Homo sapiens: one gene and its partner. The protein of the gene in region 1 interacts with the protein of each later gene in a pairwise test. Each region holds a gene or a part of one and is shown on either strand. Other genes may lie near its edges.

Region 1 (3,600 bases):
GGGGCCCAAAATGCTGTGTTTCTAACAAATGCCCAGGTGATGGTACTGTGGAAGGTCCCAGATCCCACTTAGAGAGCAAGGCCAGAGAGCTTAAGCAACATAGCAGTGTTCATGTCATATAAACACAGGGACTTTGACTTTTTAAACAATTCAGCCAGAGAACACCAAAGTAAAATTATCAGGAAGTGATACAACACATCTTACATACATTTTTGTTCTTTACTAGGAATTATGTTTAAAAGGGAATACTTTCTGCATAATCATTGCTTTTTCTACTGTATCCATTCTTACTGAGCCATGAGAGTAGGAGTCGAGCGGTTCCTCTCACAAGTTTTACACAGTAGGCTATGGGCTTTGCTCAGCCACCCGAAAACACACATGCCACAGAGCGGGAACCAGAAGAGCAGGCAGCACCCTGAGCACCCTCTCTGAAGCTCCACAAGCTAACAGTGACAGGAAGGGCACTCCACAAACATCTCAGCTCATTCCCTGCACTTTCTGGAAACACATCATGATCAAATGGCATAATGCCCCTTCATCCAGATCTTGCCATGAGTCTTAAACAGAGCAGAATTGAAAGTGAATGGCTTTTAGGATATACAGCCCTCAATTGCCTCCCCATACCTACCCCTAAAATTCATGACCGTTAGCAACAGCAAAGTTAGGCCCCCTGTGCCAGGCAACAGCCAGGGGAGGGAAATAAAGAGAAAAAACGAAGCAATTAGATGACGTGCCCAAGTAGAGGTGGGTTTTGCAGGGTTTGTTTGTTTTCAGGGATTTTTTTTGGTAGAATTGCCTTATTTAACTGTTAAATTACTACTTTATTATCGAGTTCAATTTTTGCTTTTTTCCCTCTTCTTCTTTTGTTCTGATTTTAAGATAGTCTCACTCTGTCACCCAGGCTGCAGTCTACAAACACGACTCACTGCAGCCTCAACCTCCTGGGATCAAGCGATCCTCCCACCTTTGCCACCTGTATAACTGGGACCACAGCCATGCACCACCACAACCAGCTAATTAAAATTCTTTTTTAGAGACAGGGGTATCGCTTTCTTGCCCAAGTTGGTCTTGAACTCATGGGCTCAAGTGATCCTCCCATCTAGGCCTCCCAAAGTGCTGGGATTACAGGCGTGAGCCACCATGCCCGGCCTCAGTTTTTTCCATCTACAGGTTGTAGTGCATCGGTGAATGATGAAATCATTTTGATAGGTCAGAACTGGGTTGTTTAAAAATGCAACAGGTGGGGGTGCATCACAGTTCAAAGGAGAAGTGTTGTTTCTCAGTTGTGTGTTGTTTGTACCCAGTTATGTTGTAAAGTGCACTGCTGACTGGGGGTCATGAGTAGAAATTTGAAAAACACTGGACTATAGTTTGCTCTATGATAGAGAAGGGTTTCTTTTAACACCTTCACTGTTTTTAACATATTTATTTTGACTGTATTCACTTGGTATTTGATTGCCTTAGCTAGATGAATCAGGGTAAATAGCCTTTTTCAGATATTTCCCTGCTCTTTCCACTATAAATTTCCTGAACTCATATAGCATGTTTAACCCATACATGTAATAGTAACGTCCTTCAGGGTATACACCATATGAGTAGGTCACATTTAATCTACATTCTAAACTATTGCTGAGCATCGTACTCCATCCTCTGCATCCAAACAGTTGCTCAATAAATACACAGCTTAGCATGGGGAATGAGCCCTCCGTAGCTTTCGAGTTACAAGAGCACCATCTTCTGGCGAAATATTTTCTTTGTAGGGAGAATGTCAAAGACCTACCAAAAATGTCCTGATTTTTCTAGCAAAAATTATAATTACATCACAAATACTTTGAAATTCTGTAGAGCTCCTTGCTTCATTCAGGAGTTTCGCTTCATTTCCCCTCTGAGAAGTGGTCTTTCTGTTCCTTAGCAGTGAAAGCAGTCAGCCTGTCCTTCCTGGTTTTCCGTTAAACTAAGCCGGTTTCAAGTTTCAGCTCCTCCTTGAATTCCAGGCTGCTGAGACTTCCCTCTAGAATCCTCCAACATGGAGCCTCTTGCAGCTTACCCGCTAAAATGTTCCGGGCCCAGAGCAAAGGTATTTGCAGTTTTGCTGTCTATAGTTCTATGCACAGTAACGCTATTTCTTCTACAACTAAAATTCCTCAAACCTAAAATCAACAGCTTTTATGCCTTTGAAGTGAAGGATGCAAAAGGAAGAACTGTTTCTCTGGAAAAGTATAAAGGCAAAGTAAGTTGCATCATCTGATTTTTATTGTTATCATTTTTCCTTGTCTCTGTTTATTCCTCTTAATAAAATCAATTTTTTGCTGTTACATGGTCATAAGTTGGAATTTAGTCTTCAGAGTAATGGTATTAGTACATCACTTTAGTTATTACAGTTCTGATAGTTTGCTTCTAAATAATAAATTCCGATTATCTCGTTTTCTTTAAAATGCTTTAATTTTGTGCTGAATTGACATGTAAAGTTGTTTGGAAAATACTTATAGTTAGTAATGTGAACATGATGACATTTATTAATAAAAGTATTGGTTCTATAATCTAATAACTTTAAAAAGAACTTATCAAGGATCATAGTTTTATCTTTAATTTAAAAATAAACTTTCATGAGTATCTAATGCTTTTTTAATGGCAGTACTATTTCAGGGCCTTAACCCAGGCATCTAGGTTACAGTTTTCAATAGAACTGTGTATGTCCAAAAATATGAAAAAAACATCAATCAGAGGTTATAGTCCCCCCCAAATTGTTTAGGATTTTAACTACTTGCAGAATTTTTTAAAATCTTTTGCTTCACTTTCCGGTTGGATTTTTTTCTTTTTCCGGGAGGTTTCACTAGTTGTAAACGTGGCCAGTGACTGCCAACTCACAGACAGAAATTACTTAGGGCTGAAGGAACTGCACAAAGAGTTTGGACCATCCCACTTCAGCGTGTTGGCTTTTCCCTGCAATCAGTTTGGAGAATCGGAGCCCCGCCCAAGCAAGGAAGTAGAATCTTTTGCAAGAAAAAACTACGGAGTAACTTTCCCCATCTTCCACAAGATTAAGATTCTAGGATCTGAAGGAGAACCTGCATTTAGATTTCTTGTTGGTAAATATCTGCCTTGCATATGCTGTTTTAAATTGCTTTTCATTTTTAAACAATTATACCAGGACAATACTTTCCTATTTCATTTGAAACGTTGTATCGGGAAAGCTTCATAAAACTATCATCAAAGAGCCAGAATCTCATCCTTTGTAACTTCTAGGAGTTATGCTCCCCTGAAATCAATGTTTTAGCTTCTTAGATGGTAAAAGAATTCTATTCCAATATATTTTATTCCTTATTACCATCTTCCTGAAGAATTTACTTAAAGTGTGCCCATGGCTATTTTCACAAAATATCTTAATTCTCCTCTCTTGTAACTAGCATCTGGAGAAATGTCCCTTCCCGTCATTATAGCCACACAGCTCTCATGAATAGTGCTGGGCATTATTAGTTAACATATGTTTGTGGCTAATTTTATGTTGTCTTTCTTATCTGAAACAATATTCTCAAAGATGAATATGTCAGCTTACCAGATTTTTGCTAAAATCCAAAAACATATAACTTGGTTTTTTCA
Region 2 (3,824 bases), on another chromosome or scaffold:
TAGGTCTGGTGTCTAACAAATATTTATTAAGGTAGCTGAAGAATCCAAAGGTACTCTTACATTTGCAAATGGTACATAACTTCAGTATAATAAGAAGTGAAGACAGGCCTGTCTGAATAAATAAAACAATGAAATATCCCTGAGTTATTTTTTTATCTTAGCTTCGCTGAACTTTATGTCTAAGTATCCAAGAGAACTTGCAGATAAGTAATCATTTTACAAAGAACTTAAAGCACCAAAGCCAACAGGTTTTTCCAGCATAGAATTATTTTGGTTTATAAGCATCCTTTTAAGGCCTGGCCTGTAACACATGCATGTTTCCTCATTCTCACAAAGCTGAAATTCAATCATCTTCAGGTTATATAAACTGCTTGGCTCTCATCCATTTATCAGGAAAGCTTCCAATTGGTAAGTGAAGAAGAAAGGCAAAGTGAAACGTTAAACAGAAATCTCAGTAATTTTAGAATGTGGAAAACAAACATCTACTTCAATATTAACAGCTTGCATATTAAAATGATAAATGAAGAGAGGAAAGACCTTTTTTTTGTAATCTATTTGCAAAGGCAAGTGTCTGTTACTCTTAGGGGACAGCAGGCTACCCCGACACTTTTTTTTTAAACCATGTATCAAACGTTTCTTTTATTAACCTAAAAACATTTGACTCACACATTAAAATGCCAATCAGGTAATTTCCTCTATAGTGAATCAATTCTTTGCACAAGCTTTATTTTATAAAATATACTCAATTTTGACATTAAGACATTAGATTCTGGTATATGTTAAATCAAGTTCTAACATCTATAGTACATATTTATAATTTTCTTTGCAAAGACTGATAATGGAGTTACAAAACATTCTAAATTCTCATTTCGTTAGGTTTTGTCCGGTCTTAACATTTATTCCAACTGGATCATTACCAAGACCTGACCTCCTTTTTGATCTCCTGTGAGTACAAATTAAGCTGGGAGAAGTTTCTGGAGCACCACCCTCTGTGCATATGTGGAACAAGTAATTTGGTTCAGACGAAACAGAATTATGTGGAGTCCTCGGCAGGTGGGTTGAGAACTACGCAGGTAGGACTCACTACTGACCGGTCACCACGTCATCCCAAATCCTTTCAACCCAAGACTCTACCTGATGGGAGCCCCCAAGCCACTTACCAGAACCACAGACAACAAAAATGAAGAGAGCCAATAACCAGGGTCCTACAGACGCCTTCTCTTCGGGGGCATTTCTCTGCAAAAGCGAAAATCCACCATTTCAGATGCAGAGAAACCACTCGGACCCCAGGCTCCCACGCCTGCACGCCGGTCGCCGGCCCCCTCACCTCACAGGTCTCCCCTTCCGTTCCCGAGCCCCCACAGTCTGGCGGTTCGCAGACTCGGGCCCCTACCCCTCCACGGCACCAGCCCACGGTCGGCCGGATCCGGGAGAAAACGCGACGCGGCCCCAGGGACCCGGACTCAGCTCCGGCTGCGGAACGCAGAGGGGCGCCCGCTCTTTCCTTACCGAGGTCTTGGCGACGTTGCCGCGCTGGGTGATGTTCTTGCTGTGCTTCTCGTTGGCCATACGGATCCTTTGCTTGGCGACCATCTTCGCGGCGCCACCACCTGCCCCGGCCACCCCTCGGACTCGCTCACTCGCCTGCCTCCTCTGGAGCCGCTGCGAGGCTCGGCTCGTGGTGCCCGCGCCGCCGGAGCGCCGAGGTTCTCAGGCCAGACGCTAGCTACGGCCGCTGGGCCTGGGCGCCGCAAGCGCGAGGTCTGAGCACAAGCCGGGCGCCGGCCGCCGACTGACTGACCGAGCGGGGCAGGTGCGCAGGAGGAAGAGAACTGGCCGCCGGGTCGTTCTCGCGCCGCCGTCGCCGCCGCTTTGGCCGCCGCCGTGAGCGCGGAGTGAAAGAGGAAGGAAACGCAACGCAACAACGGGAATGTGCAGCCCGCCGCCTCGATCTACTTTGGGTTCGGCTGCCAACGTCAGCACTAGACGGACTCCGCCCCGCGGAAGTGCGCGCCCCTCCCGCTGGAGAAGGAGGGCGAAAGCAGGCGCACCCTCCCAAGCTCTGTCAAGCGTCGCCCTAGATTTGCGCGTGCGCGTTTGGGCGCCTTTTCCGCGTCACTCCGTAACCGGAAGTGAATTGGCCCCGAGGCTGATGGCTCCGGAAACACCAATTCGCTGTCTCCACGCATGAGGAGACGTGTAGGGGCCGGGTTCGGCCCTGGTGAACTCTCACCCGAGCGGTTTCTCTTTCCGGGACAACATGGCGCCGTCCACGCCGCTCTTGACAGGTGAGTTCTGAAGAAGCGAGGGACTCTCTTTCTTCAGACTAGTTTCTTATTTTTGTCTTTGCCTTTGAGAACTACCCGAGGAGCCGGGGAGTCTGATCTGCCTTTTCTTGTGGCTTGCGGAAAGGCCAGACTGTTGGCTTTCTTGATATAGCGTGGCAATCGGAAGTGAAGTCTCCGCCTCTGGGCTTTCGTATTCCCCCTCCCTTTCACCCATCCATCATTCTTGCCTGCGGATTCATCTTCTACAGAAATAGAAGAAGGGGGAGAAAAACAATGTGCTAGTTGAATTTGTGACACATGGGTCTGCAATACTGGTGTTACACGGGCCCTTGTGAAGTCATTTAGGTCTACAATAAGAACAAAGACAAACATGAGTTAGTCCTCTAGAATGATCACGCACTTTAAATACACCTGGACTTAAGTAATTCCAGATTCTGGCCTTCCTGCCTTAATGAGGTTTGTAGGACTGAATAGGGAGAGTGGAGCTGTAATGCAGGTTTCAAATGATGAAGGTGTGGTTGGGAGAGGGTGTAGCAGTGAGCATGATAGAGATATTCTAGCAACATTTGATTTTGAAATGGTTATGAGCATATTAGAAATAGAACATTAGAGGACTCTTGAAATTTTGAAGCTAAAGACTGTAGTGTTGGAGGAGATAATAAACTTAGATTGGAAAATGCTGGGGAAGTTGCTTTACTAGGGTGTGGCTAAGAGTCTGCATATGAGTATTACGTAAGGAAAAGAGAGTCGGGAAGGAAAAGAAGGTTTTGGTTAAGTTCTGATAACTATATAGAAGGAAAAAGTCATTAAGAGAAAGGTTGTCTGCATTTAAGGAGGGAGGCTATTCCCTCCCTTCCCCCCCGCGAAAGGAACCTTAAAACATTTTTGCACTTTTTGCCAGTCTACATTTCTATTTTTACATTTTAAAATCTTTGTTATTAAGCGCCATGCCCACTGATGCTCAGTCTGTCTTCTGCAGTTTAGTCATCATTTATCAAACGCCGAGTATAATCTTCTAGATAATATACCAGGCAAAGACTGTTTAAAAGGCAAAGTTACATAATAAATTTTTTTTTAGGTTTGTAAAGGTAGCTTGTTATTCACAATTTTTAATACTAAATGCTTATTTGAACTCTAATGAAAAAATTACATTCTAAAATCTGATAAATAACCCCTCCTTTAAAAATGCCTACAGTAGGTAGTTCCTCTCTGCTTACAGGGTAGATTCCATCCTATGTAGCATAGTTATGTAACCATTTATAATCTTTGAATTGCTCTTGAGACTCATTTATTTCCTTGCCATCCCATCTTATTTGGTGCTCCATCAATACTGAACTGCTTCTGAGTCCCTTTGAACAACCTGTTTCTTCAGTCTAGTACTATCCTATGCCTCTTGTTGATTTGGCAAACTCTTTTTCATCTGTTGAAATTAAAATTCATTTTAGATATCATTGCTCTGTGAAGCCTTTCGTCACTCTACCCAGATAGAGTCAGTCACTTCCTGGGCTATTTTTGTACCTGAAATATATTTGAAAT

What was found.
Region 2: the proteins of GPX8 (region 1) and SERP1 interact in binary tests that used the Homo sapiens proteins (3 or more experiments, as listed by UniProt).

Annotation. Positions count from the first base shown.
Region 1 is NC_000005.10:55,158,167-55,161,766, forward strand, and holds the start of GPX8 (probable glutathione peroxidase 8), read left to right. Parts: upstream 1-2,004; 5' UTR 2,005-2,026; coding exon 2,027-2,230; intron 2,231-2,824; coding exon of another isoform or gene 2,825-2,827; coding exon 2,828-3,089; intron 3,090-3,600.
Region 2 is NC_000003.12:150,544,543-150,548,366, forward strand, and holds the start of SERP1 (stress-associated endoplasmic reticulum protein 1), read right to left. Parts: upstream 1,955-3,824; 5' UTR 1,594-1,954; coding exon 1,510-1,593; intron 1,237-1,509; coding exon 1,161-1,236; intron 1-1,160. Other genes in the region: EIF2A (eukaryotic translation initiation factor 2A), read left to right, coding at 2,261-2,288. UniProt on the Homo sapiens protein: Interacts with target proteins during their translocation into the lumen of the endoplasmic reticulum. Protects unfolded target proteins against degradation during ER stress. May facilitate glycosylation of target proteins after termination of ER stress.